Homo sapiens: one gene and its partners. The protein of the gene in region 3 interacts with the protein of the main gene of each other region in a pairwise test. Each region holds a gene or a part of one and is shown on either strand. Other genes may lie near its edges. The genes, in order: ZMYND12, TPM3, HSF4, PIH1D2, SOX10, YTHDF1 and NUP62.

Region 1 (4,176 bases), on a different chromosome or scaffold from region 3:
AGACTGCAGTCTGACTCTACGCTAACTCAGATTTCACGCCCAGGAACTCTTTTCTCTGGTAATATTTTCCAGTACTGAAATCCTAATAGAAACCCCTTAAATTTTGAAAGAACAATTCAGTTATCATCCTCAACATCCCATCTAACTTTGTACAGAGTTTTATCATCGATAAGTGCTTTCTTATACATCTAGCTCTTTTAAATTTAATAACCAACACTCTGAAGTAGAGATATTACTGTTATTTTTTAAAATAATAGCCAAGGTACTATACATTTATTGTCCTATTATTAATCTTCGCAATGACCCAGTGAGACAGAGACTATTTTATTATTCCTGTCTTGCAGGTGATGAAAGAGGTTAAACAAATTTTCCAAGACGATGTGGCTAGTGAAACAGATCTGTGACTAGAAGCAAAGCCCTTCTCTCTCTCTCTTTTTTTTTTTTTGAGACGAAGTCTTGCTCTGTCGCCAGGCTGGAGTGCAGTGGCGCGATCTCGGCTCACTGCAACCTCCACCTCCCGGGTTCAGGTGATTCCCCTGCCTCAGCCTTCCGAGTATCTCGGACTACAGGCATGCACCACCACGCCTGGCTAATTTTTTGTATTTTAGTAGGGACGGGGTTTCACCATGTTGGCCAGGACGGTCTCAATCTCCTGACCTCGTGATCCACCCACCTTGGCCTCCCAAAGTGCTGGGATTACAGGCATGAGCCACCATGCCCGGCCAGCAAAGCCCTTCTCTTAACGAGTATGCTGTTTTGCCTCCCTTTACTCTTCAGGGCAACTGAAACTTCAGGAATATGTGACCTGGCCAAGGTTGAATAGCTATGAAGTAGAAATGCTTGAACTCGGGTCGGTAGAATTGTGTTATGGCTAACATCCCACCAAATAATCAGTTGTAAACAGAAAGTTTTAGAGAAATGCACAGTTTTAAAAAAATTAAACAGATTTTGGAAATATACAGGTGTTATAATTTAGATTTTGGAAATATACAGGTGTTATAACTTAGCTTGTTTACATCATTGGCCAGATGATAACGGGCCTCTTCATAGTTTTTCTTAGCTATATAGAGAAGTCCCAGATTCCGATGCAGTAAAGAGTGGGTGGCATTACTACAGTCAGTTGATTTGAGGACTGTCCACTGGGCTTGGAATAGATATTCTTCAGCCTGAACGATTCGGCCCAGACCTGCCCAAAAGCAGAAAAGAAGGTTATAATTCATATCCAGGCCAAAGAACACATGAGGAAATATGAGTCATTACCCATTCACTCATGTATTCATTGACTCAAGTATTTATTGACACAGAAAAACTCATACAGGAATGTTCACAGCAGCCTATTTGGAAGAGTAAAAAAAAAAAAAACAGAAACAATGTAAATGTCCATCAGCTGATGAGTGGATGAACAAAAGGAGGCATCTCCATCTCCATCTCCATCTCCATCTCCATGAGTGGAATATTACTCAGTCATAAGAAGGAATGAAGTAGTGCTACCTGCTATAATGTGGATGAACTTTGAAAACACTATACTAAGTGAAAGAAACCAGACACCAAAGGCCACATATTGTATGATTCCATTTATATGAAATGTCCAGAATAGGCAAATCCATAGAGACGGAAAGTAGACTAGTGGTGGCCAGGCGACAGGGGGAGTCCAATGCAAGGGAGGCACTAACAGGGGGTCCAATGCAAGGGAGGCACTAAGAGGGAGTAACTGCTGACAATTACAGGCTTTCTTTTAGGGGTGATGAAAATGTTGTGGAAATAGATCATGGTGATTGTTGCACAACCTTCAGAATGTGCTAAAACCAACCACTGGATTGTCCTTTTTTTGTTGTTGTTGTTGTTTTTTTGAGGGAGTCTCACTTTGTTGCCCAGACTGGAGTGTAGTGGCGCGATCTCGGCTCACTACAACCTCTGCCTTCAGGTTCAAGTGATTCTCATGCCTCAGCCTTCCAAGTAGCTGGGACTGCAAGCATGCACCACCACGCCCCACTAATTTTGTATTTTTAGTAGAGACAGGGTTTCACCATGTTTGCCAGGCTGGTCTCAAACCCCTGACATCAGGTGATCCACCCACCTCGACCTCCCAAAGTGCTGGGAATACAGGCGTGAGACACTGTGTCTGGCCTTAATTGTTCTTTAAAAGGGTAAATTTTATGATATGTGAATTATATCTCAATTGTGAAATATATATATGCATATTTAATACCCTTTCTGTGCCAGGCCTTGTGTTGGGTGATGGGGAATCAAAGTGCAACATGAAAACAAATATATTTACAATATAGTATAATTGCAATAGCAACACAAGCTTTGGAAGTGTCAGAGGATAGGAAATGTTTAATTCTATAGATGAGATGGAGAGGGACACTGAAGCAGAGTCTGAGCTGGGTTTTGAGGATGAATAGAAGTTTTCCAGGTAGATAAGGCAGGGAGAGCATCCCAGGCAGAAGTAACAGCATGTGCAATGTCATAGAAATATGAAATAATATGTTATGTTCATAGAACTATATAGAGTCACAGCTGCAGGGAACTGGTTCCAGAACCCCCATCAGATACCTAAATATAAGGATGCTCAAGGCTCTAATATAAAGTAGTGTAGTATTTGCATATAACCTATGCACATCATTCCCTATGCTTTAAATCATCTCTAAATTACTTATAATACCTAATACAAAGTAAATGCTATGTAAATAGTTGTTCTACTATATCATTTTTGTCTTTTTTGTTTACATTTTTTCTTTTTTTGTTTATAAGCCCACAAGTAACATCATGTATTGTTTTGTTTTGTTTTGTTTTTTTGAGACGGAGTCTTGCTCTGTCGCCCAGGCTGGAGTGCAGTGGCGGGATCTCGGCTCACTGCAAGCTCCGCCTCCCAGGTTCACGCCATTCTCCTGCCTCAGCCTCCCAAGTAGCTGGGACTACAGGCGCCCGCCACTACGCCCGGCTAATTTTTTGTATTTTTAGTAGAGACGGGGTTTCACCGTTTTAGCCGGGATGGTCTCGATCTCCTGACCTTGTGATCCGCCCGCCTCGGCCTCCCAAAGTGCTGGGATTACAGGCGTGAGCCACCGCACCCGGCCGTATTGTTTTTATTTGTATCATTTTTAATCATTGTATTATTTTTAAAAATATTTTTGACCCATGGTTGCTTGAATGGGCAGATGCAGAACCTACAAATATGGAGGGTGTAGGGACTGTATCGGCCTGTGATGCTGGAGCACAAATTGTGAAAGACAGAATGGCAGAAAATGAGGCTATGGTGGTAGGCAGGGGGCAGGTCATGGAGGGCTTAGTGAGTTATACCAAGGAACTTGATGCATGTGGATAAAAACTAGAGGATTTTCAAAAAGGGCGAGAGAATCAGATTTAAATTTAGAAAGATCCTCTGGAACCAATGTGGAGGAGGGACCAGAGGGGAGGAATAAAGGTAGAAGATTCACTGGAAGATGTCTGAAATAGTTCGGACAAGCACGCTTAAGAGCCTGAAACAAGACAGTGAACTAAAGAGGAGGAGATCAAAAAGAGACAGGAAGTAAAATGGACAACACACGGTTACTAAGTAATGTGGAAGGTAAGAGAAAGGAAAGCCACATTTATTGCTAATATTTAGATACTCTTGACACTTAAAGCTTTTTGTGTATTACATATCATCTTTATATATACAGAGGCCTGCCTACCTGCTTGACTCCTGGGGAAATTTGTCAGAACAGAATAGAAAGCCACTACGTCAGTGTGCTGCAGGGTAGGAGGCGTGCTCTGGGGGCGAAGCATTGGTGTGATAGGTGCTGCAGCAGAAATGGCATCAACAAAGGGTTAAGAGGTAAGGACACGAACCCCTCATAAGCCAACCCTCTGCTCCTCTGTGTCCTTCCTGTCAGACCTAGTTCATATGTAAGCATGCTTTTATTCTAGTTGTAACCCTACATCACTGAATTAAAGGAAAAGAGATGAAGAGGAAGCAGTCTACAAGAAGAAGGAAGTAACTTTGCCTGATGGAAGGTCAAAGTGCAAACTAAAATGGGAAACTACTAGATTAGGAGCACGAGGCCTAGTCCCTGATCCTGGCTCATGTGAACATGGCAAGTCACATCTTCCCTCCAGGCTTTGTCTATAAAATATGAGGTTTAGGCTGAAGTCCTCTCACATTTGAAGAAGCAAATGACTCTTAACTAAGAT
Region 2 (4,176 bases), on a different chromosome or scaffold from region 3:
TCCTAGCACAGAGGATCAGTTCTCTTTACAATGAAACAAAAGCCTGCAGAATCAAGATCTGATACTTTGTTTAAAGGAACAAGGAAGACAAGCTGACTTTTCCCTCATGAGTCTATGCACAGTGCCTGTCCCTTTCAGGTCAAATAATACCAATGGGTACCAAGAGATTGAACAGGCCTACTTTTTGCAGACCAGGCTACCTGTGGCCCTGGGAAACGTTAAGCTCTGCACTTTCCTAATCATCTTAGGTTTTAGCATGCCCATCCAGATGCGGTTTTGGTGTTTCAGCTGACCTATCTCTGCCCAGTGTGGAGGATATACAGTACTCTGTGGTTCTTCCCTTCAAGTAATAATAGGATTCTCCACTGCCCAGGAAGCAAAGATCCTGGGTGAGGGATTGGGGAAAGAGTAGAATGCCCCAGCAACTCAGTCACATTACCAGATGGCTGACAACACCTTCGGCTATCCTCCACTCCAAAGAGATTTCCCAAATATGTCAACCCCTCCAGGCAAGAAACTGACAGTGTGATGGTACTCTCAGGCAGAACAGGGCCAAGGACAGAAGGGGATTAGCCTAAATCTGGCTTTCTGCCACACTGGGGTTTCTCTTATTAGATAAAAGCCACAGATAAAATTCAAATGAAAGAGTATCAGAAAGTTAGGCTTGAGCCCTGTGAGTAAAGGACTATTTGAGTTCACTGTGCTCACAAATGCATTACCCAGGGAGATACCGTGTCCTTGGGGAATTTAAACTTCACCAAAGGGGAGGCAAGTTGGAAGGGAGTAGAGCTATCTGCCCCACAGTAAACAAAGGCGGAGCCTAAGCAGGGGTAAAGGGCTATCTGCCTCTCCCCTGTGAGTGTGTGTTCTAGTACTGGGGAAAGAGAAAGGAAAGCAAAGCAACCAAAGAAAGGTTGCTTAGTCCACCAGGCCCACGAATAGAAGAGAACCACACAACAGTCAAGCATTCTAACCTCTCCAGAGACTAGGAATTTAGGATTAAGGCCAGAATCAAAGCCCACTCCCTCGGTAGTACTCTTAAGGTTTTTGTTATTACTTTTTTTTTTCTTTTTGAGGCAGAGGTAGTGTGCTGACCTTACACTCCCGCAGTTGACCCCTCACTCCCCCAGTGCCGATACTCGCCCAGGCTGGAGTACAGTGGCATGATCCAATCCTGGTTCACTGCCACCTCCGCCTCCAGGGTTGAAGCAATTCTTGTGCCTCAGCCTCCCAAGTAGCTGGGATTACAGGCATGCGCCACCATGCCCAGCTAATTTTTTGTATTTTTAGTAGAGATGGGGTTTCATCAGATCCACAGGTGGACCTCAGATCCACCCGCCTAGGCCTCCCAAAGGGCTGGGATTACAGGTGTGAGCCACCGCACCCAGCCTCTTAAGTTTTTTAGACTAGAAAAAAATTAAAAAGAGAAAAATATCAGGGACAATTAGGAGAGAGTTATTAAAAACAGATAAGGTGAACTGTACATTTATAAATGGTTAAAATGGTAAATTTTACATGTATTTTTATCACCACTACCACAAAAAAAAAGAGATAAGGAAAAAGACTGCATTTAAACATTATGTTGCCATCTGTTTCCATTTAGACAGAAGTAAAAAGGAAATACAGAACTGAAAGTAAATTTGACAAGGTGCTACATTATAAAAGACCAATTTCCAGGCCGAGAGCAGAAAAGAAAGATGGATCCTAGAACACCAGTGTCTCAGTTTTAGACTCATCTAGCTTCCCAACAAGGGTGGCTTGGATGTTCACACAAAGTAACCAGGAAAATAATTAAGTGACAATCCCACTAACAGCATGAGATACCATCAGAGAGTGCAGTTTCCCGCTCCAGAGGAGGGAGGAGTCTGCAAAACCCACATTCCAGAATGCCTTAAGAGGATAACAGGTAGCCCAAGCAACCCCCCTCCCTTCCCACAGGTGTCTCCTCCTCAGTAGGGGTTCAAAGTTCAGCAGAGCAGCAGAAAGTCAAAAGATTAAGCTTCTTCAGGCTGGGGAGTAGAAGAAATGATTTCATCAATATTTAACTATAACTCTACTTCCCCATTCTGAGGACTTCCTCACTAGACCTCAGCTCAATAAGCAAATTTGGCAGGCTCTGAGTGAAAGTAGCTTAAGAAACATCACCCCAGGACAGGCGCAGTGGCTCATGCCTGTAATCTCAGCACTTTGGGAGGCTGAGGCAGGCAGATCACTTGAGGTCAGGAGTTTGAAACCAGCCTGGCCAACATGGTGAAACCCCATCTCTACTAAAAATAAAAAAATAAAATAATAAAAAAAAATCGCCGAGTGTGGTGGTGGATGCCTGTAATCCCAGCCACTCAGGAGGCTAAGGCAGGAGAATCACTTGAGCCTGGGAGGTGGAGGTTGCAGTGAGCAGAGATCGTGCAACTGCATTCCAGGCTGGGCTACAGAGCAAGTCTCCATCTAAAAAAAAAAAGAGGGGGGATGGGAGGCAGGAATCACCCACCTTAGAACTACTCCTAGAATGTCCATATTTAAATACTGAGCCTAAGATTCTGCAGCTCAACACATGGCCAGTTCCTCTGTCTTCCCCTTTAAAGCTATCTGGTCTCCAGAACAAAGGAGATGAGAAAGTGCCACTGGCCATAAAGAGTCACCCAGCCAGTCCATCTCACTTGCACAGATAATAAGAAGTTGTTGGCAAACTGAACAGAGGAAAAAAATCTACCTAGAAAAAGGTGTCTGAGGAAGACAACAAGCTCCCATCCCAGCATCTCCATGACCACTTATAAAAATAAGTGAGTATTCCAACAATCTTTAAGTATTTAAACTGGAGGGCAGCTGTCCCCCAATTACCATCCTTTTCTGAAATCCACCCCTCCCCCTCCCAAAAACATTCTCAGTTATTTCCCAGAGGAGCAGCCAAAAAGAAAAACAAAAACAAAAACTTACCAAGGGAAAGAACAAAGAACAAAGAATAAACCACATGAGTACTTTCACTGGATCTTGAATTTTAGCAACAGTTACTTTACTCTCTCAAGATCCTCCAAAACAAAGCCTCAACTCGTATCAGCTCCATCTATTAGACTGCACCCTAGACCTTGGAAAATCTTATGGCTTACACTAAAACTAATCAGCCACTTTTAAACAGAAAGACGTTTAAAGAAATCACTAGAATAGGCTGGGCACGGTGGATCACACCTGTAATCCCAGCACTTTGGGAGGCAGAGGTGGGTGGATCACCTGAGGTCAGGAGTTCGAGACCAGCCTGGCCAACATGGCGAAACCCCGTCTCTACCAAAAATACAAAAAATTAGCCAGACTTGGTGGCGGGCACCTGTAATCCCAGCTACTCAGGAGGCTGAGGCAGGAGAATCACTTGAACCCGGGAGGCGGAGGTTGCAATGAGCCGAGATCATGCCATTGCACTCCAGCCTGAGCGACAGAGTGAGACTCTGTCTCAAAAAAAAGAAAGGAAGAAAGAAATCACTAGAATCACTGTTCACTCCACCAACATTTTATGTTTCCACTTTCAGTTGAACAAATATTCCACTAGAGTCACCTGGAATTCATTATTGTCTCCACCAAATTGCCCAAGTCAATCAGAAACCTTGAGACTGGCACACCATCTGATTCTCTGCCATACACTCGCTTATCAGCTCTGCTCGGAAGAAATGTTCTTAACCAGTTCGGCTTGCACTGATCACACTTCAGCAATAAAGGCCTGAATCTGACAGAAGTTCCTGCCTTCCAGGTCATTGTGGGTAGGGCCAGGCAAGTTTGGTTGGCTCCTACATTTGCACTAACGTTGAGAGAAGTACTATCCCCTCCCCTGCCGTTTCACGTAGATTCAGAGAGTGGGTGTAGCAGCTGCAAGAGCACCCCGTAAGAGGAAAGGGCCCCTGGCCAGAGGATGAGAGGCGGTCCTGTGGCCTCGAGCTCCTCCAGGGAGGGAGGGCACCGCGCTTCCTCTCAGCCAACTGCTGCCTCATTTCCTGAGCAGGAGGAGGGAGCGGAAAAGCTGCCAGCAGGCAGGCCGGGGTCTTTCCGACGGTTCCCACCCCAAAACCCTCACCATTTCACAGAAGGTTCAGTACTGCCCCTCCCCGAACAGAGAAGCACCCACCCACTCTTACCCCTTGGGCAGGAAACCTCAAGCCAGAGCAAAGTTCTCCCACCCTCCATGGGGAAGTG
Region 3 (4,695 bases):
CTGGGATGTCAGAGATGATGGGGCCCCTGGCCCTGTGAGGGCTAAGGCCCAAATTTGTCTCTGGGAGAGGCTGTAAGTAGAAGGCTAGGCCCAGCCCTTGGCCTGTAGGCACAGGGAGAGCCAGAACCCCACCAACACCCACCTGGGCCAGGTCTAAGGGAGAAGGTTTGAGGGAGGAGGCTCAGTCCATGCTGGAGGGCCTGGGTCTGGTTGGGGGGAAGGCTGGCTTCCATCTTCTCTTCCTTTTAGGGGATGGGGAGAAGGAACAGGCTCTCCATAAGCCCAGCCATGCCCTTGGGAAGGGGGAAGAAGACAAACCTACCGACTGGATGAAGTAGGGGTCCTGCAGAAGGGCACCAGGTAGAGGGCAGGTGTTGAACTTGGCAGGTGTTGGGCATGAGCTCCCCTCATCCAGCATCAGGGACCTGTGTGGTCGATCAGGGCACAGGCAGGGGTGGGGCAGGGTCAGCCCCCATGCACCTCGGCCTGCACTTCCCTCCCTCCCTCAGGCCCCAGCAGCCAAGTCAGCAGAGCTGAGGCCTGTTGCTAGGGTGTCAGTCACATGCTGGAGGTGGAAGGGGCTCCCCCTAGAGATGGGGGCCCTTTGTGGGTAGAGAGGGGAGGGAGGGAACCTGGTTTGAGCCCCAGGGTCTCAGCTGTTGGGAAGCCTTGCCGGAGGGGGAAGGGGCTGCTGGGGTAGGAATTTGGGAATAAGGTCCTGGAATGGGAGGATCTGGGAGTGGGGATACCAGGTGGCAGAGTTGGGGGGAAGTGGATCCTAGATGGGGTGAGGAAGCCTGTAGCGCAGGGGGAGGAATGAGGATTCCCGGTGAAGGAGTTTCCAGAGGAGAAGGGGTCCTTGCAAGGGGACTTCTGGGGGGTCTTGGAAGTGGGTGTGGGCCTTCTTGGCTTTCTCACTCACAGCTTTCTCTTGCCTCCTGCATTGCTCGGCCCCGCCTGAAGTGGCCCAAAGAGACACTGGATCAGCTGAAGAGAAAGCAAAGGTTTAATTCATACTTTGGACACAGCCCCCCCACCCCCGCACTTCCAGGTGAGGGAGGAAGGCTTAACAGGGGCGCCGGGGGACTGGGCGGTGGAATGGGGTGTCGAGGAGTGGGAGGGAGAAGCGAGGCTTGGGGAGAGGAACACCTTGCCAATGACCCGGTGCTGCTGACCGTGGCTCTGCCGAAGTGTCACCACCTCCCGCCACAAGATCTCGTTCTGCCTGAGGAAGGGGTGGGAGGGTGCTGAGGCATCTGAGAGTTCGCCCAGTCACCACCCCCCACAGAATGGCGAGGCTGGGGACCCAGGAGACCACCCCGCTGACTGGCCATCCCAGAGATCGCCCATAAGTCTAGATGGAGGCGCCAAGGCAGGAGAGAGGAAGGGGCTGCCCAGAACTGCTGGCCGGCCAGTTATGGTCTCATCCCGAACCCCCCACCCCTGTCCCCTCTTTCCCCGCCCGCCCCCGCACTGCCTGAGCTCCCGCAGCCGCGCCTCGGTGCTCTCCTGCACTCCCCGCAAAGCCTGCACCTCGCCCAGTAGTCGACCCAGGTCCTCCGGGCGCCAGCGGCCGTCGTCGCCGCGCAGCGCGGGCACCTGCAGGCGGGAGGCACCGTCGGGACTGGGTCGCAGGAGCAAGGCAGGCAGTCCCAGCACCCCTCCTCCTCTTTGCTCATTCCCGCAGGCCGCCCCCACCTTGCGCCGCACGCGCTCCAGTAGCTGCTCGCGGCCGCGCACGAAGCTCGGGTGCTGGAACTCGACGTGGTCGCGCTCCGGCCTAAGCAGGCCGCCCTGCTCGATGCTCACCACCTTCCGAAAACCGTCTGGGGAGTGGGGCGTGGGGGCGTGGGTCGCCCCATCCCCGGCACCGAGTCCCCCATCCCCGCTCCCCGCCCGGCCGTAGGGACTCACACATGTTGAGTTGGCGCACGAAGCTCGCCATGTTGCTATGCTTGAAATACTGGGGCAGCACTTCCTTGGCGAAACGGCTCTGGTCGCTTACGAGGAAACTGGTCCCGCTCTACCAAGAACGCCGCCCGCCCACCGTGCGGGCGGAGACCAGGAGGGTGAGCGGTGCCCGCTCACGGCCAGTCCTGCGCTCCAGCGCGCGCACACACTCATGCTCACTCTTGGGTCCAGGCCTGCCGCTTACGGGGATATGGGTCGAGGCCAGGCCAGAACGGGCTCCGAGGCCTAGCCTGGAGCGACCACAGTGAGTCCCTACCCCCAGCCAGACCCTGACTCCATACTCAGTTCTCAGAAAGGAGAGGCTGACGGGGTTCCCAGCCCCGCAATGTGACCCTGAGCTAGACCAGCCCTTCCCATCTCCCGGCCTCTGTTTTCCCATCTGTCGGATGGGGTAGGGTGGGAACTAAATGGCCTCGAAGGTCCCTCGGACTCTAGGTCTTCAGAAGGCAGGCTCCTAACCCTTCTTCGGCCGCAGAGGAAACCCCCCTCTCGCACACCCCCTCCAAGGTGAACTTCTCTGAATGGCCAAATCCGGGGATCCACGGCCCAGTCTCAGGAGGGGGTTGGGCGGGCATGGGTGTTCACTGACGTGGAGGGACCCCGGGACCACAGGGGGAATCGAGGGGCCCCGGCCCTCACCGGGCTCCAGCGGATCAGGTGGTCTGTGCCTGGGTCCCCCACCAGCGCCCATAGCTTGCCGAGGAAGGCAGGCACGGGGCTGGGGCCTGGCTCCGTGGGCAGCGCAGCTGGCGCTTCCTGCATGGTGCAGTCTCGGCCCGGCTCTGCGCTCGGGCCCGGCCGCTGCGGGCTCGTCAAAGCCGCGGAAAGTGCTGCGTTTGCCGCCCGCTCCGCCCTACTCCGCCCCGGGGCGCCGGGTCAGGCGGGGGCCACGTGCAAGCCCGCGGGGCGGGGCTCGGACAGCGGCCGAGGCACCAGCAGGCAGAAAAGGCTGGCTGGATGGGATGTGTGGAGTGGAGTGGAGTGGAGGGGTGGGGTGGGGTGGAGTGGGGTGGGGTGGGGTGAGATGAGTGGGAGACTTGGGTTCGAGTCCCACCCCTCTCGGTCCCTCTATTTCCTTCTTTGTTCTACAGGAGAAATCGCCGGTGCGCGACCTGGTGTGGGCTGGGCAAGTCCTAGAAGGTAATGGCCAGAGGCACAGTGAAGCCCCAGGCAGGGCAAGCAGATAGGAAGGGGGGGCAGGGAAGCACGCCCCCTCCCGCCGAACCCCGGGACGTAGTCATTCCAAGGGTGTGAGTGCCCCGACCCTGACCCCCCGCAGCTGTGTCGTCCAGAGGCTCTTGAGGAAACCCAACCTCTGCCGGGATGGCTCCTCCGGTACCCCGCGCGTTCCCTGTCCTTCCCTTTCAGATCCGACCCCGCCTTTAATAGGACGCAGAAACACTGCAGGATTTGTTTATTTCACACTCACCCTTGAGGCCCGGCCCGCGCCCGTGCCCTCCCTCTCCCTGCGCCGGGGCCGCGGAGCTGCAGAGTCCGCAGAGGGGTGGAGGCAAGAGAGGGGGGCAGTGTGTCCAGGACCGAGCGGGTGGGGCGTCTGCAGAGGGTGAGAGCAGCGAGTGGTCTCAGGGCGCCCAGGACTGGTCCCGATGCCATCACAGTTCCCAACTCGGTAAAGACCCGGGGGGCAACAATCCCAAAAGAAGGCACTAGCACTCGGGGCGCGCCTGGACACCCCCCCCGTTCCCTCTCAGAGCGCTTACGTCCACGGGGACGGGGGAGAGAAGTCGCCCAATCACGCCACGAGCGTAGGCCTCCAGGGATGCGGCTCGCGCGTGAGCTTGAGGGTATAGGTGCGCAGGCGCGGGCAGTGCGCGCGGAAGGCGTCCAGCACCGAGTGGCTCACCACGCAGAAACAATGCACCTCGCGCAGGGCCGCGCAGCGCGCCGCCAGCTCCTCCAGCGCGGCGTTCAGCTCGGCCGAAGCGGCTGCGCGCACCTCGAGCGCGCACAGGGTTGCGGCGTAGTGGTGTGCTGCGAAGCGCACTGGGCCTACGGTGTCGCCTGAGAGGTTGAGGCGCAGCGCAGCCACGGGGACGGCTGGCTGCAGGACGCGCGTCACGCTCTCAGCGGGCAGCGCGGGCTCCAGCTCCAGCTCCACTGCCAGCCCAGGGTGGCGGCGGCGCAACGCGACCCAGGCTTCGTTGGGCAGCGGGGACGCGCGTGCATCTTCGGGGCACGCGCACCGCAGAGCCAAGAGCGCGAAAGGCGCTCGGTCTGGCGCCGCCAGTGCTTCGAGGATGGCGTGCGACAAACTGGCTAGGTGCAGGCCGAGAGCGCGCAGGCGCGGGCAGGCCTCCAGTAGCTCGAGCACTGAGCCGGGACCCACGCTGCCCACTAGGGTACTGTTGTCCAGAAAAAGGCTGTGGAGCTCGGGACAGCTGCGCGCCGCCTGCAGCACCAGCGCGTCGTCCAGTGTGAAGGACAAGCGCCGCAGGTCGAGGTGGCGTAGCTGGCTGGCCGCCCCGCATACAGCGTGCACAGCCTCCAGGACGTCGCGGCCCGCGTCGAAGAGCGGTTTTTCTCCGCGGCACTCCAGGCGCAGGCCTCGCAGCCCCGGGGCACGGCCCGCCAGAACCATCAGCAGCTCGATGGCCGCCCGGCGGCTCGGCTTCCTCGATGGCTCAAATTCCAGCCGTAGGTTGTGAATGTGGTCGAGGCAGGCGGACAGATAAGGTGGCAGCATGCCTTCCAGCTCACATTCGC
Region 4 (4,396 bases), on a different chromosome or scaffold from region 3:
TTGTGCCACTGCACTCCAGCCTGGGCAACACAGCGAGACTCAGTCTCAGTGAAGTACAGAGGTTAAATAGGCTTGAATATTATATTTGACCCTGTATTTTTATTGTTGGAGGAGACTCACTGATATGGCCCATCCTGATAATAAAAAACTTCTTGCACAGTCTGGAATTTCTTCCTGATAGAAAAATTTACTAGAGACTTTTTCAAGCAGTAAACCAAGAGTTCTCACTTGTTACTTGGAAACAATTAGAATTTTCCCAAATTATAAGTTACTTAAGATATTTTTAAAACAAGTGTGTCATAGCAATAGTTTTTAATTCTGGTTGATGTTTATTTGAGAAGAAGTGAGTTAAAAAATATAAGACATGGCCAGGCATGGTGTCTCATGCCTGTAATCCCAGCACTTTGGGAGGCCGAGGCAGGTGGATCACCTGAGGTCAGGAGTCCAAGACCAGCCTAGTCAACATGGTGAAACCCCGTCTCTACTAAAAATACAAAAAAATAGCTGGGCGTGGTGGTGCATGCCTGTAATCCCAGCTACTCGGGAGGCTGAGGCAGAATCGCTTGAGCCCATGAGGCGGAGGTTGCAGTGAGCTGAGATCGTGCCACTGCACTCCAGCCTGGGCAACAAGAGCGAAACTCCGTCTCAAAAAAAAAAAAAAAAAAAAAAAATATATATATATATATATATATATATATTTGACATAACAGGTGAAGAGAAAATCTCAGTCAAAATGAACTTAGAAAATAATGGAATTGGTGTTTAAGATAAACTACTACCTCTTTAGCCAAAATGAAGGTCCTTTAATTCACATGACTTTAGCACTGAAAACCCAAAACATATGATGCTCTTCTTTCACACCAAAGGCATTGTGATGATTAGCGTGGATTTTTCTTTGATAAATTTTGCTGTGGTCATTTCAGTATCAATAAGTTTTGGAAGATTCAGATGTAATCTGTACTTCTCAGATACTTCAATCAATAAATCATCCTAAGAATAATAAACCAAGAGATTTATTTCCTGCTTAAAATTTGGGATACTAACTTATTGTTCCCAGTTATTCACTCCTTTGCCATAAAAAGATCCCATTTGTTGCCATGTGACTTGGAATGAGCAAAAAATTACTGTTGTAAATCCCTTAGATTTTAAGGTGGTTACTGCTGCTCACTACATCACACGTTAACTGATACAGTACCACAGTAGAGTGTTGCCATCCTAAATTATGTGGCTGACCAGCAAACAGCAAGGAAACTTATTGGAGCCTGGAAAGGTAGTGATCCATGTTTCATAATGATGAAGCCTTTAGTGAAACTATCACAGTAATTTGGATGATAAATACTCTGTGCCTAGTTGATTTGTGGCTTTAGGTGAAGAAGTGGGAAAATAGATGGTAATGTGTTGGTTCTGTTCACTACATTTAACAGGATATTACAAGAAAGATGAGCTTAGAATGGACCATTTTGCAAGTCAAATTAAAAGGGAATTGGCTGAGTGCGGTGGCTCACACCTGTAATCCCAGCACTTTGGGAGGCTGAGGGCAGGTGGATCACTTGAGGCCAGGAGTTCGAGACCAACATGGGCAACATGGCAAAACCCCGTCTCTACTAAAAATACAAAAATTAGCCAGGCTTGGTGGCACATGCCTGTAATCCCAGCTACTCAGGAGGCTGAGGCAGGAGAATCGCTTTAACCTGGGAGGCAGAGGTTGCAGTAAGCTGAGATGGTGCCACTGCACTCCAGCCTGGGCAATAGAGTGAGACTGTCTCAAAATAAATAAATAAATAAAAAGGACTTTATAGAGCCCCAAGATTCCAAGACTCAATGACTGAAAAGTGGAACTAATTTTTATTTTCAGCAAGTAAGGGATAAAATTGAGAAATTACTTTTATCAACCAAGCTGATTAAGGCAATATAGAGGCAAAGATTAAATCTTTATGCTCTTTGTTAAAACCTCTGAATTTTTTTTGTTTTTTTTTTTTTTTGTTTTTTTTTTTTTGAGGGGAGACAGAGTCTCGCTCTGTTGCCCAGGCTGGAGTGCAGTGGCTCGATCTTGGCTCACTGCAACTTCCGCCTCCCGGGTTCAAGCAGTTCTCCTGCCTCAGCCTCCTGAATAGCTGGGACTACAGGTGCCCACCACCACGCCCGGCTGATGTTTTTTTTGTATTTTAGTAGAGATAGGGTTTCACCATGTTGCCCAGGCTGGTCTCGAACCCCTGAGCTCAGGCAATCCACCCCCCTTCGGCCTCCCAAAATCCTAGGATTACAGGCATGAGTCACCGTACCCAGCCAAAACCTCTGACTGTACTAAGGTGGACTTCAGTAAATCCTTACATTTGGCTAAAATGACAGCAATTAAGTCTAAAGAGACAGGTAAGTCTTGAAATATGGGCAATGTCTAAAAAGGAATTATGGGTATCACTGACTGGAATCAAAATGCTACCAGCCTGGACTAAAAGAAACTGCCTTCAAAATTTAAAACAATCCTTTGAGCCCCAAGATTCCATGAGCAGGAACCAGGCTGAAGAGGCTACTTAGCATATAAGAATGGCACATTCTCCGATACTCTTCAGATGTGGCCAAGGTGGATAGTGGGAAAGGGAAAAAAAAAGAAAACATCTTCCTGAAGACTGAAGCTAAAGGTCGTGGAAAAAAATGGAACTGGGGAGCTAGGTAATTACAGAACTTTCTCAAGGAACCTAAGTAAGAACATCCTCTACCTCCAGAAAAGGAGCCCTCACAATGTCTGCCTACTAGGATTTCAGAATTGCTGTGCACCAGTAACTGCAGTGTGCCTCTTATTTTTCCCATTTCTGAATTGAGATGGTTAATTACGGTTATCTTCTCCCCATTCCACATTGCATGACAGATGGGACTGAGGGAGTACATAACTTTTTTTACATGTCTTAGTCCATGGTTCAAGAGGAAGAGAAAGCAAAATTCTGTCCTTTGGAGTCTGATACTGGGATTGGAGGTGTTTTCCTTCCAGAAAGAAGCAAATATTTGCAACCAAGAGTGTAGACTGGTAGACTGTAGGACTGACTCTAACTATTTGCTCTTCTGTAAGAGGATAGTACGTTTACCCTGCCATATGACTTCCTGTGACTGTGAGAATACACTTCTCAGTCCTACTGATGTAGAACTGGCCTTGTGACTTACTTTGGCCAGTGGAGCGTGAGTAGAAGTGATATCATGAAGTGTCATGTCTGAGTAGAAGTATTACGATCCACTGCATGGTTTGATCATTCTATTTTCCCTTTGCTGAGATGTGAATGGCACATCTCAGAAGGGAATTGCTCCTTCACCGGGTAACCTGAGCAAATCATTGTAAGCCCCTGAAATTATGTAGTTTGTTACTGTGGCATAATATATGTTAGTGAATGCTGGCCAATACAAATTTACAGTGTTATCTATTCAACTTACCTCAGAAACACTAAGGTCACAGAGAGAGACAGAATTAATACCAGGTAATTCAACTTTCAACTCAATTTTCAGAGGTTTCTCACTGTGATCATGCACAATTTTTAGTTCATAGGCTGGCATCTTCATCTCCACCTGGATTTCAGTACTGGAAATCTCTTCTATCAGACACACTGCTTTGCCTGAAACTTGGTCTTTTGGCAGTAACAGTTGAGGAAAGTGATCTGGATTGCTCATAGTACTGCTTCGTATCTGTCCAAGAGTTAGTTCTTTATGAAAAAAAGGGTGGAGGGGAGATAAAAAATAAATCTACAACATAAAATACTATGAGCTATAATATATGTGGTGTTAGTAGAGATGGTAGATAAAGCTGCAGTTAAATTAGTTTGGGAATCAAGCCAAAAGAATCTTAAACCAAAGAATTTGATTGAAAATTTTTCAGGATTTAAAAATCAAGGATATGATATTTCTAATATTTAATATTTGCATTTTTCTATCTTAAGTTTTTCACCTTTTAAAATAGAGATTTCTAGTTTGCAAAATGTATACAGGATCCAAAAACATCTTAAAGCAGTTTAATTTTCCATTTACAATCATCAACTTACCCCTTCTCATTTTTTCTCTTAAATCTATGGAATCAGTTTGGATTCCCATCAGATTTTGTTTCATTCTTTGAATGCTTCCTTTTATTCTAAATTTGGTAATATGGTAAGAGTGTGAGAGGGTGAACTGGAATTTCTCCTCAATGCATTTCATGGCCATCTGAATTAACTGATTTTTTTTCACTTGGTCCTTTTCTGCTGCATGAAGAACATCAGGATTGTAGGCAACATCAATGACTGTGTAAGCATCTGTGTGTGTAATTGAAAGGGTATGAAATGAAGAAAAATTGTTGCACTAATGATACTGTCAGGCAATATATTAAACCATATTCCTGATAAAGCTAGAGAATATTCCTGTATTTTTCAGAGGTAATCAC
Region 5 (3,420 bases), on a different chromosome or scaffold from region 3:
CGGACCTACCCCTTCACTGGCCTGAATGACATAAAACCCTTGGTGGAGCACTTAGTAAATGGCAGCTGGATATAAGCTGTTATGAGCTGGGTATGAGGAAGAACTTCCAACCATCGGAGTTGTTCATCAGTGGAGCAAGATGGCAAAGAGTCTTTGGAGTTGTGTGCTTGTGAGGTGGAGTGGTCCTGGCCTCTGGGTGCAGTTTGGACTTCTGCTGAGGAAAGAGCTCTTAGGGAGTAGGCGCTTAAGGAGTAGACTGTCTGACATCCTTGGTCTGGACTTGGACATGGGCACCTGCTGTGAAGGCTTGGCTAGATCCTGGCGTGGGCTGCTGTGTGTGTGCTGGGGGAGGTGGCAAGTGGGGGGATGCAGCAACACAGGGCCTATCCACACATCCTGAAGGACAGGCCTCTGACTGCAGGCAGCACGGTGTCACCCTCAGCCCACCTCCTCCTCTTCAGATACCTGTCTCTTGAATTCTTTGCAAACTCCCGTCTGCTGAGTGCTGGGTGAGCAGAGGGGCTGCTTGCAAGGCAGTGAGTTCTAGCTGAGCCAGTTAAGAGTGAGTGGCCCCCCTGCAGTGTGGGGCATAGCCGCCGGGCTGGGGAGAAGTTCCCATCTGAGGCTTCAGTCCCTGAGCTCAGATGGACCCCACTGGGATGCCAGCTGTCCTAACACTCTCCATTGTTCCCACTTTCTTAGCAGGGAGAGAGACAGAAAGAGAGAGAGGAGAGTGGGAGGGGGGAGAGAGAGAGAAAGGAGAGGGGGAGGGGGGAGAGAGAGAGAGAAAGAGAGGAGAGAAGGGAGGGGGGAGAGAGAGAGGAGGGGGGAGGGGAAGGGGGTGGGGAAAGAGGGAGGGAGGTGGGAGAGAGAGACCTTTGATGATCTATCCTTTGCATTCTACTCCTAGCTACTTCCAGAAAGCATTTGAGGAAGCACCAGTACAGGGATAAGAGATGAAGAGACAGGCCAGGTCAGGCTCACCAAGCAGGTAACCGGAACCTTTAATTTTATTATGTGGAATGCTTAATGCAGAGTTAATAGGGGCTAGAGTGGCTAGGAGAGGGGACTACTGAGATAAATAACAGGAGACAGTAATGAGTTACATGTGGATTTGGGGGGCTGCAGAACAGGAAAATAGGGGCAGATATAGCTACATACTTTATTCAAATACCACTGGGAGGCAAGGGGTAAGAGGCAAGGGCAGAATGTACAGGTCAGGATTCTAGTGTCTTCAGCCTGCCGACAGCAACCTGGGTGCTGGGCCCTGTGTCTCCTGGAGCCAAGGGTTAGGGCCTGAGCAGCTGTCACTCTCTGGGAAGCCCAGGGAGTGGGGCTGACTGAGCAGGGGCCATAGAGCCTAGTAAGGGAAGAGGGAGCTGGCAAGGAGCCCAGGGAGGGAGGCTCTGTGAATTGTCTCTGATTCCTTTCCTGGAGCCCCTGCCTCGTCACCTCCTGGGATGCGTCTCAAGGTCATGGAGGTTGTAGTGGAGGAGGACTGGGGGCTGTTTCTCAGACAAAGAATGAGGTTATTGGCACAGAATTGGATCAGGGGGCCTCTGTGCCAACTCCTTCCTGCCTTCAGAAAGGGAGGGGGCATTGAAGGGATGAGAACTCCACTAAGTCCCTCGAACCCCCCACTCCCCAATGAGGCTCCTCAAAGCTACTCTCAGCCCCTGAGTGGGAGACACGGCCAGCTCCGGGCACAGTCTCTGGGTGGCCTAGCCCTTAGGCACTGTGGCATAGGTGGCATGGGCATGTCAGACCCTCACTATCTGTGAGAGAGAAAACAGGAGTCATAGGAGTGGTAAGGCCTCCGATGCCACCAACCCTGGTGCTTCCCCTCCCCGAGGAGGGTGAGCAGGCCCTTCTCAGGTCCTGGGATAGAGGGTCATTCCTGGGGGAAGGTGCAGCCCCTCATCTTTCAGTGTGGGTGCAACAGTCAACCTCCTTCTCCTCTGTCCAGCCTGTTCTCCTGGGGCTTTGCTGCTGGAGCCTGGATGGGGCGGGTGGGTCATCAGGGCAGTGAGCCAGACAGAAAGCCCCCCGACCTGTCAGCCTCTTCAGCCTCCTCAGCCTCCTCCACTGCCACCACCAGGCCTGAGGTGGGCAAGGAACAGGGCACACAGGCTGGGGGCAGGGGCTGGGCGGGGGGTGGTGGCGACAGGGCCCCCTTTAGGGCCGGGACAGTGTCGTATATACTGGCTGCTCCCAGTGTGTGGGGCTGTGGGACTGGGGCCCTGAGGGGCTGGGGTCAGAGATGGCCGTGTAGAGGGGCCGCTGCGAGGGCCCCATATAGGAGAAGGCCGAGTAGAGGCCAGAGGCCTGGCCCGAGTGGCCATAATAGGGTCCTGAGGGCTGATGGTCAGAGTAGTCAAACTGGGGGCGGGAGATGGAGGGGAAGGCTGAGCCATAGTGGGGCAGGCTGAGGGAGGTGTAGGCGATCTGTGAGGTGGATGGCTGGTCGGTGTAGTGTGGGGGCCCCTGGGGCCCCGCGGTCTCTGTCTTCACCTGGGCTTTGGCATCCACACCAGGTGGTGAGACCGTGGGCAGAGCCACGCCTGGTGGCTTGGAGATCCAGGCGGAGTGTCCACTGGCCACGGCCAGGGCACTGCCCAGCCCATAGCCGGCTGCTGAGTAGCTGCTCACATGGCCTGGGTGCCCATTGGGCGGCAGGTACTGGTCCAACTCAGCCACATCAAAGGTCTCCATGTTGGACATTACCTCGTGGCTGATCTCACCAATGTCCACGTTGCCGAAGTCGATGTGAGGCTTCCCGCCCTCCCCCATGGAGCGCCCGTCCCGCTTCGGGTCTGCCTTGCCCGACTGCAGCTCTGTCTTCGGGGTGGTTGGAGGGGTGGGTGGGCCATGGCTCTGGCCTGGGTAGAAGGGAGACAGAGAGAGAGAGCGCAAGGGGGAAGCAGGTTAGAGGCAGGTGGGCGCACGTGAACTTCCATGGTTCACCTTCAGGCAGCGGGTGCCTCTGGGAAAACCTTGTAAGTTTCACATTTTGGCAGCATGAGTCGGGTTTTTTTTTGTTTTTTTTTTTTGAGATGGAGTTTCGCTCTTGTTGCCCAGACTGGAGTGCAGTGGCGCCATCTCGGCTCACTGCAACCTCTGCCTCCTGGGTTCAAATGATTCTCCTGCCTCAGCCTCCTGAGTAGCTGGAATTACAAGCGCCCACCACAATGCCCAGCTAATTTGTGTATTTTTAGTAGAGACGGGGTTTCACCATGTTGGCCAGGGTTGTCTTGAACTCCTGACCTCAGGTGATCCACCTGCCTCGGCCTCCCAAAGTGCTGGGATTACCATCATGAGCCACTGCGCCCCACAGCATTTGTTTAAATACTGGTGTCTTAGATTGATCTCTAGTTGTTTATGAAATTCTCAAATCTTAGGGATGGGTCCTGGGGAGGCCTG
Region 6 (4,176 bases), on a different chromosome or scaffold from region 3:
TTTCTAATTTTCTTCCTGTTGACTTCTCCACTTGTGAGCAGACAATTCCAGAACCCCCCCCTTTTTTTTTTGGGACGAAGTCTCACTTTGTCGCCCAGGCTGCAGTGCAGTGGCACGATCTCAGCTCACTGCAACCTCCGCCTCCCAGGTTCAAGCGATTCTCATGCCTCAGCCTCCCAAGTAGCTGGGATTACAGACACCCACCACCACACCCGGTTAATTTTTGTATTTTTAGTAGAGACAGGATTTCATCATCTTTGCCAGGCTGGTCTCGAACTCCCAACCTCAGGTGATCCACCCGCCTCGGCCTCCCAAAGTGCTGGAATTACAGGCATGAGCCACAGCGCCTGGCCCCAGAATCATCTTTTAAAATGCACTAACTGCTGTTTCCCCGTAATATAAATTTGAGATTCTGGGGGTATAAGAAGACAAGTGGGATGCTATCAGTGTTCCACAAACATGAGATTAATCTGAGCTTATTCTCCCTCAAAACAGTTTCCATGATGCTGGCTCCTTTGCTGCAGCCTTTCCCTCGGGTGCTGCCCTGGCCAACAGGCCCAGACTGGGGGGGTGAGCGAATCAGGGGGGCGGTCTGTGCACAGGACTTGCTCCTCGAGTCACTGGCCGCAGGTGCCTTCAAGGACGGCAGGCAAGGGGACAGTCCCCCCCACAGGGAAGCCAGCCCTCCTCCTCCCATTAGCTGGACACGTGCTCCTCAGCAGCGCTGCAATCACAACACATCTTCCTTCCACGCAAAAAGAGCAGATGGGAAAAAAAGACCTCGATGGCTGTGTGGTATTCTAATCCACTTGGCCCCAACACCAACCAGAGGAGTCAGGCCACAGAAACAGATGCCCAGGGACACTTCTGACTTACACCTAAAGCCTTAACTAAGACAGGACATCACTTACCACATGAAAAAATCCACATTACATGAGGCATGTAACATTCCTGAAAATCCGTTTTAAGTATTAAATGGACACACCTAGCACACACGCTGCACAGACAGAGAGCCCATAAATGACCCATCCAGCTTCCCTCTACCCAAGGTGCAGGGCCTGCAGTTCTAGCCAGTACTCTGCAAATCCTTCAGCTCCAGATCACCACCATTCACATCCTGAGCCACAGAAGACGGTGACGCTAATCAGCTCTGCTGGCAGCCCTAAACCCTCCTGATACTTTCTGTGCTCACCGGGTTCCACGGCCACACAGGCAGGCTGGATACAGTGACCTGGGGTTCTGTGGGCCGGATTTCCATTTTTACCTCAATCTCACTGACAGCCCATTTCCTATTACATCTGCCATCTTTCCTCCAAAACTCTGAAGGTAAAGAAGCAGGTTAATTTGTAAAGCTATGTGAAGTCAGTCATTCTGTACATAAGAAAACCTGGAGATGCTGTCCTCTGCCTTCTTTATGAGCCACATGTCAGGCTGCTGCCCCACACTCCTTCCCTGGTGAGGGAAGCTGTCCCATTCACAGTCCTGGTCACAGTGCGTGGGAGACAACTGGAAACGCACAGTTCGGGCTGCCTGGAAAACACATGCAGCCTCCTTTCAGGGCCTTTGATCTCCCTTTGTCTCCCGCACAGCCAGGCACAGGTTCAGCGCTCACTCGCTGCCAAGTGCTGGAGGCGAGCTGTGCTGCTCCCTCAACATTCCTTAGTGCCACGGCTCCATGGGCACTGAGTTATGAGTGTGAAAGTTTACTTCTCAGGGATACAGCTGCATTAACCCCGGGCACGGTGACTCATGCCTGTAATCCCAGCACTTTGGGAGGCTGAGGTGGACGGATCACAAGGTCAGGAGATCAAGACCATCCTGGCTAACACTGTAAAACCCCCCTCTCTACTAAAAACACAAAAAATTAGCCGGGCGTGGTGGTGGGTGCCTGTAGTCCCAGCTACTCAGGAGGCTGAGGCAGGAGAATGGCGTGAACCCGGGAGGCGGAGCTTGCAGTGAGCCGAGATCGAGCCACTGCACTCCAGCCTGGGTGACAGAGCAAGACTCTGTCCCCCCCACCCCCCTCCAAAAAAAAGAACAAATTCAAAGCTTGTTCTTAACACATTACTACCTCTGAGCAAGCATATTTTGGTCCTCGTAAATGAGTGGCATAAACAGATCTTTTAAGGACAATACAAGCAAAACCATGATCCTGTTACTCTGCAGCCGCCTCCACAGAAGACTGCTGAACACTTCCACATGCTAGGCGCCTCACTGCAGCCCCTGCGGAGAACTGACGACCTCATCGAAGAAAGGCTAACACATTTTTAGCCGGGCACAGTGGCTCTGGCCTGTAATCCCAGCACTTTGGGAGGCCGAGGCAGGTGAATCACAAGGTCAGGAGTTCGAGACTAGTCTGATCAATATGGTTAAACCCCGTCTCTACTAAACCGGGTATGGTGGCAGGCACCTGTAGTCCCAGCTACTCCGGAGCCTGAGGCAGGAGAATCGCTTGAACCTGGGAGGTGAAGGCTGCCATGAGCCAAGATCACGCCACTGCACTCCAGCCTGGGTGACAGAGTGAGACTCCGTCTCAAAAAAAAAAAAACAAAAACAAACAAAAAAGAACTAAGAGCAGTTTTACATATTTACTCAAATTTAACCACATTAAAAAAAAGAAACTTCCATCCGAATGACCAGAACCATTTAAGTTGAAGTTCAATGGTTAAGTTTACTTCCTATATCCATTTTTCTGAGATGGAGTTGGAATGACCAAAAGGAGAGACTAGAGGGAGAAGCAGAAAGGATCCCTTCAGAAGCCCAAGAGGAACAGAGAGAAGCATTTGCTTAATAAAAACAAACAAACAAAACAAAATAATTAATTATGTAAAATGGAAAAGTATTAAGGGTACTGCTGAAAAGTGAGGGAGTGATATGGCTCCTGGGAAGCAGCTCTGACCCAGGACTGGGAACAGGCCTACCAGGATGACCTGTTCTTCAGGAGAAGCCTTAGGGAGCACAGAGAAAATGTTAGAGGAAAATAACCGAAAAACCCTAATTTACTTACTTGGCTGCTCACTTTTCAGATCTGTTTTCAGGACTGGTCCCTCTGAGGCTGCAATTTCAGCCCCTCAGCTGGTGGCATCAATATGCAGAGACAGCAGTTTCTGACAGAATTTCTGCATTTGTTTCAGCAACTTGCCAGTAAGAAGCACGTTAAGATCCCACTATGTCCTTCCAGCTGCGTTTCTGGGAAGCCGTTGTGATGGCAAATGCCTACTTAGCAGGCGCTGCCACTGGGTATTTTAAGGAAGCCCATATTTTTAGATGCAGCCACAAGAAACTGACACTCCCCTGCTGGCCCTCAGGTCACCCCGGGCCCACCAGAGCTGCCCAGGCACAGCAGGAAGCCCTGTGCCAAGCATCTCCAGGCTGTTCTCAAAGAAGTCCTAGATGCTCTGATGAGGCATTGTGTTCAGTGAAAAAAAACCACCCAAAACCTGATGAGCAATTTCGTCACTGTGTGATCAGTGTCCTCACACAAACAGAGACGTGTGAGCATGGAGGCAGTATCCTTACCACACACTGAGGCCGTAACCTGTACAGTGTGTAACTGTACTGAATAATGGAAGTAACTGTACATCAATGATAAGTATCTGTGTGTCTAAACATTATCTAAACACAGAAAAGGTACAGTAAAAATACGGTATAAGAAATCAAGAACGGGACACCTGTACAGAGCACTTACGGTGAATGGAGCAGGTAGGCCTGAGTTGCACTGGGTGAGTCAGGGAGAGAATGTGAAGGCCTGGGCCCTCACTGGACACCACTGTCACCTTTAGAAACACCGTCCACTTAACACTACACTCAATTTTTAAATTTTCCTTTCTTCAATAATAAACCCTAGCCTACTATGGCTTTTTTACTTTACAAACTACTTTTTTAAAAGCTTTAAGGTTTTTGACTCTTTTGTAAACACAAATATATCATATAGCTGTACAAAAATTTTTTTTGTTATATCCTTATTCCATAAGCTTTTTTCTATTAAATTTTTTTTAACTTTTTGAACTTTTTTGTTATAAATGAAGACACGGCCAGGCACAGTGGCTCATGCCTATAATCCCAGCCCTCTGGGAGGCCGAGGCAGGAGGACTGCTTCAGCCCAGGATTTCGAGAACAGCCCAGGCAACACAGTGAGACCCCATCTCTACAAAAAATCAAAAATAAGGCAGGAAG
Region 7 (4,176 bases), on a different chromosome or scaffold from region 3:
GGGCTGTGTCGGAATGAAGCCCTACTCCGTCTCACTGCTTGTAAAGTCCAGCACAGAGGGGACCAGCCTCAATCCTCGGAGACTCTTGGAATGAGGGCTGGGTTCCTTTTGCTCTCTGCTGTGGACAGAGAGGATGACAGCTGTGGGGAGGGGAAGTCACAGAGGGCCAGCAGCCTGAGTCCTGTCCACACTGGTGGTTTGCTGGGGTTTTCCAGGTTTTTCTGAATTACTTGCCTACCTTTAAAACTTGGATCTCACAGAAAAAAAAAAAACTGGATTTCCAGCTTCTCCCGTGAAACCAGCAGCTTTGCACCACCAGCGCTGCCAGTGTTGCTGCGGCCCCGGTGCCTTTCAGGGGCCCAGGTGCTTCTGGGAGCCACCCCTCCCTCTGGGCCTGACACAGGGCCCAAGGTGGTCAGCAGTTCACCGGTCCAGGCCTCTTCCCATGTCAACCCCCTGCCCCTCCACACTGCCCCAAGGTAGTTCTATGATTGTGCCCATTTTACTGATGAGGTGACCACAGGTCGGGGGGTACAGTATCTTGTCCCAGACCACTAAGCGGTGAGTGATGGCATCCTGGGCTCTAGGACACTGGTGTCAGTTGTTATCAGTTTGCTGTGTCCCTTTTTTTTTGCATAAGAGCTGTGACTGCTTCTACTGAAGGGACAAGGGCAGGCACAAGGGAGGGAAGGGGCTCTGGAGGACTGTGGGCCACGTGGCAGCCTGTGCTGTCTCCCAGCCCCCGCGTCATCCTCTCCCCAACTGAGCTGGCCTTGGCCTACCTGCCCTTGTTTGCCAGGACTCCCACCTTCAACCCCGGCACCCCTGGCCTGCGTGACCCAGTTACCCTCCCTGGCTCCTCTCAGGGACCTCAGTATCACATTCGCTGGCCTCTGTGCTGAGCAACTCATTAGAAAATGTATTGATGCCTACGGAAATAGCAGCACAGGGCGGGGGGTTGTGGGGAACGTTTCTGGGAATGAGGAGGGCCCTGACTTTGCCCTCGAAGCGTTCGGGGGAGCAGTCACGTAGGCAGACATCTGCACACGGCGGATCTGAAAGCAGAAGCAGGCGTGGCGAGAACAGAGAGAATCACACACAGACCCGGGCTCTGGCAGCCGCCGGCTTCACTGATGCCATCTCCACAGCGCTCCCACACCAGGCCCCAGAGCAGGAACTACTGCTCACAGGGCATTTCCCTATGCCAGGCCCCACTCTAGGTATTTCACGCACATTTACACATTTAATCCTCAAAACCACCGTCTGCAATGGACCATCTCATCCCCATTTTACGGAGGGGAAACTGAGTCATAGAAAGAGGATGCCACTTGCTGAGGGTCACAGAAGTGGTGGAGTTGGGGTGTGAACCCAGCAGGCTGGCTCTAGGGCCCATGCTCTGACCCACGCTGCGGAAGGCAGCCGAGGCTCGGCAGATGAGGGCCCTGCCTGCACTCCAGTCTACAACTGAGTGCTGGGCTCAGGACCAGAACCCCGGTCTGTCTGATGCAAAACTCGGAGCCTTTTCCATCATGCCAGGAGGCCACCGTGATTGGGAAAGCAGTGAGGAGTTGCGGCAATAGCAGGGCGATGGCACGGTGCAGGTGCAGGCAGGAATCGATAGCGTCTGGCAACTGTGAGCAGCAGCAGGCCTGAGGTGAGGGTCAGGGCTTGGAGACCTCCCAGAGACTACACCATGGGCCTCGGGGCCCTGGAAGCTGTGCAGCATGGTGGAGGCTGAGGTCCCATCTAACTGGCACTGTGATTTTCACAACCCCCCTTACCTCTCGGGACCTCAGTCTTGACTCCTGCTAACAAGCCTCTGTGATCTGAGGCCCCTTCTTGGCACCGAGCCTCAGATTCTCAGGGTCCTGCACGGGTGGCTGATCTCCCTCCCTCTCCACACCACCCCTACTCTTGCTGTGCGGGGGTTCTCCCTTATCCAAGGCTCTGCTAACCGGGAGCGGTTGCCAGGTGTGCTGGGGTCCCCAGAGAATCCCCGAACTCCCCGTCCCCGTCAAACAGCCAGGGCTGATGCAACCTGCCTGCAACCACCGCCTCACTCCCCAAGCCAGGCCCCTCCGCACCGAAAAAGAGTCCCCAGTAGCCCCACCCTTGCTTCAAGCCCCAGCTCAGGAGTTGAAGGGGAGCTCGAGGCTGGGGGAGGCCAGGACATGAGTCCTGAAGGGGCCACAGGCCTGGGTCAGGAATGTGCACACGAGGGGACTCAGGGTTCGAAGATCTGGGGAGAAGGGTCGCAGGCAACCACTGATGACCGGCTATGAACTAGAACAGGCTGGGAGGGGCTGGAGAGCTAAGGGTGCCAACTGGCACCCACTCACCCTGAGTCCAGCTGCTAAGTCTGGCTGGGCTGAAGTGGGTGGGACCCAATAGCTAGAGAGAAAAGGCGGCAAAACGGTGGGGAGGGGAAGCAGAGTCCCTGCCCAGACACCTCTGCAGCCAGCATAAACCGCACATAGCCAGCAATGCAATTCTCCTACTGACCAAGCTATTAAAAATTACCCACACCGGGCCAGGCGCGGTGGTTCACGCCTGTAATACCAGCACTTTGGGAGGCTGAGGCGGGTGGATCGCCTGAGTTCGGGAGTTCGAGACCAGCCTGACCAACATGGAGAAACCCCGTCTCTACTAAAAATACAAAATTAGCCATGTGTGGTGACACATGCCTGTAATCCTAGCTACTCGGGAGGCTGAGGCAGGAGAATCTCTTGAACCCAGGAGGCAGAGGTTGCGGTGAGCCGAGATGGCACCATTGCACTCCAGCCTGGGCAACAAGAGTGAAACTCCGTCTCAAAAAACCAAAAAAATTAAAAAACAAAACAAAACAAAAAACCCAGGCCGGGCACAGTGGCTCAGGCTTGTAATCCTAACACTTTGGGAGGGTGAGGCAGGAGGATCGTTTGAGCCCAGGAATCAGGAATTCAAGACCAGCCTGGGCAACATAGTAAGACCCTCCCCCCCATCTCTACTAAAAAAAGCCAAAAAAAAAAAAAAATAGCATCCTACCTGGCCATCCTCTCAATATCCCGCAATCCCAGTCTGAGACAAAACCAAATGGAAGCACATTCCATAAAATACCCAACCAGCATTTTTCCAAACTGTCAAGGTCATGAAGGACAAGGAAAGTCTAAAACCAGTCACAGGCCAGAGGAGGCTGCGGAGCCATGATGCCTAAATATAACGTGGCATCCTGAAGGCATCCGGAAGGAGCAGAAAGGGCATTAAGTAACAACTACCAAAATCAGCATCAAGTGTGGTCAGAATCAAGAATGGCATTTGGTCAATGGTAACATACTGATGTTGCCTTGGTTGTGACAAATGTGGCAAAGTAATGTAAAATGTTAATGGAAAAAACCAAGTGAGGGGCATACAGAAATTCTCCGTATTATCTTTGCAACTTTTCTGTTGAGTCAATCTACAATTATTCCAAAATAAAAAATTTTATTTAAAAAATAACCCCCTTGGGTACGGTGGCTCACACCTGTAATCCCAGCACTTTGGGAGGCTGAGGCAGGCAGATCACGAGGTCATGAGTTCGAGACCAGCCTGACCAACATGGTGAAACCCTGTATCTACTAAAAATATAAAAATTAGCCAGGCATGATGGTGCATGTCTGTAATCCCAGCTACTCTGGAGCCTGAAGCAGGAGAATGGCTTGAACCTGGGAGGCGGTGGTTGCAGTGAGCTGTGACGGTGCCACTGCACTCCAGCCTGGGCAACAGAGCGAGACTCTGTCTCAAAAAAAAAAAAAAAAAAAAAAGCTAGGTCTTGCTTAAGACTGGGTGTGGTGGCTCATGCCTGTAAATCCCAGCATTTTGGGAGGCCGAGGTGGGTGGATCACCTGAAGTCAGGAGTTCAAGACCAGCCTGGCCAACATGGCAAAACCCCGTCTCTACTAAAAATACAAAAATTAGCCAGGCGTGGTGGTGGGCGCCTGTAATCCCAGCTACTTGGAAGGCTGAGGCAGGAGAATTGCTTGAATCTGGGAAGTGGAGGTTGAAGTGAGCCAAGATCATGCCACTGCACTCCAGCCTGGGCGACACAGCAAGACTCTGTCTCAAAAAAACCAAACCAAACCAAACCAAACCCAGTCCCCATGTACAATCTAGAAGATCTTCGTAGGAAAAGATTCTACCGGCGGGGCGGGGGAGATAGGG

Evidence for each region.
Region 1: the proteins of HSF4 (region 3) and ZMYND12 interact in binary tests that used the Homo sapiens proteins (3 or more experiments, as listed by UniProt).
Region 2: the proteins of HSF4 (region 3) and TPM3 interact in binary tests that used the Homo sapiens proteins (3 or more experiments, as listed by UniProt).
Region 4: the proteins of HSF4 (region 3) and PIH1D2 interact in binary tests that used the Homo sapiens proteins (3 or more experiments, as listed by UniProt).
Region 5: the proteins of HSF4 (region 3) and SOX10 interact in binary tests that used the Homo sapiens proteins (3 or more experiments, as listed by UniProt).
Region 6: the proteins of HSF4 (region 3) and YTHDF1 interact in binary tests that used the Homo sapiens proteins (3 or more experiments, as listed by UniProt).
Region 7: the proteins of HSF4 (region 3) and NUP62 interact in binary tests that used the Homo sapiens proteins (3 or more experiments, as listed by UniProt).

The regions. Positions count from the first base shown.
Region 1 is NC_000001.11:42,438,840-42,443,015, forward strand, and holds part of ZMYND12 (zinc finger MYND domain-containing protein 12), read right to left. Parts: intron 1,187-4,176; coding exon 1,017-1,186; intron 1-1,016. UniProt on the Homo sapiens protein: Required for sperm flagellum function and male fertility.
Region 2 is NC_000001.11:154,178,477-154,182,652, forward strand, and holds part of TPM3 (tropomyosin alpha-3 chain), read right to left. Parts: intron 1-4,176. UniProt on the Homo sapiens protein: Binds to actin filaments in muscle and non-muscle cells. Plays a central role, in association with the troponin complex, in the calcium dependent regulation of vertebrate striated muscle contraction.
Region 3 is NC_000016.10:67,162,850-67,167,544, reverse strand, and holds the start of HSF4 (heat shock factor protein 4), read right to left. Parts: upstream 2,801-4,695; 5' UTR 2,734-2,800; coding exon 2,611-2,733; intron 2,024-2,610; coding exon 1,915-2,023; intron 1,827-1,914; coding exon 1,699-1,826; intron 1,600-1,698; coding exon 1,475-1,599; intron 1,226-1,474; coding exon 1,150-1,225; intron 988-1,149; coding exon 923-987; intron 426-922; coding exon 323-425; intron 85-322; coding exon of another isoform or gene 71-84; coding exon 1-70. Other genes in the region: FBXL8 (F-box/LRR-repeat protein 8), read right to left, coding at 3,725-4,695. UniProt on the Homo sapiens protein: Heat-shock transcription factor that specifically binds heat shock promoter elements (HSE).
Region 4 is NC_000011.10:112,067,016-112,071,411, forward strand, and holds the end of PIH1D2 (PIH1 domain-containing protein 2), read right to left. Parts: intron 4,269-4,396; coding exon 4,023-4,268; intron 3,687-4,022; coding exon 3,421-3,686; coding exon of another isoform or gene 3,412-3,420; intron 991-3,411; coding exon 856-990; 3' UTR 783-855; downstream 1-782.
Region 5 is NC_000022.11:37,971,320-37,974,739, forward strand, and holds the end of SOX10 (transcription factor SOX-10), read right to left. Parts: intron 2,880-3,420; coding exon 2,176-2,879; 3' UTR 993-2,175; downstream 1-992. UniProt on the Homo sapiens protein: Transcription factor that plays a central role in developing and mature glia.
Region 6 is NC_000020.11:63,205,456-63,209,631, forward strand, and holds part of YTHDF1 (YTH domain-containing family protein 1), read right to left. Parts: intron 1-4,176.
Region 7 is NC_000019.10:49,922,452-49,926,627, forward strand, and holds part of NUP62 (nuclear pore glycoprotein p62), read right to left. Parts: intron 1-4,176. UniProt on the Homo sapiens protein: Essential component of the nuclear pore complex. The N-terminal is probably involved in nucleocytoplasmic transport.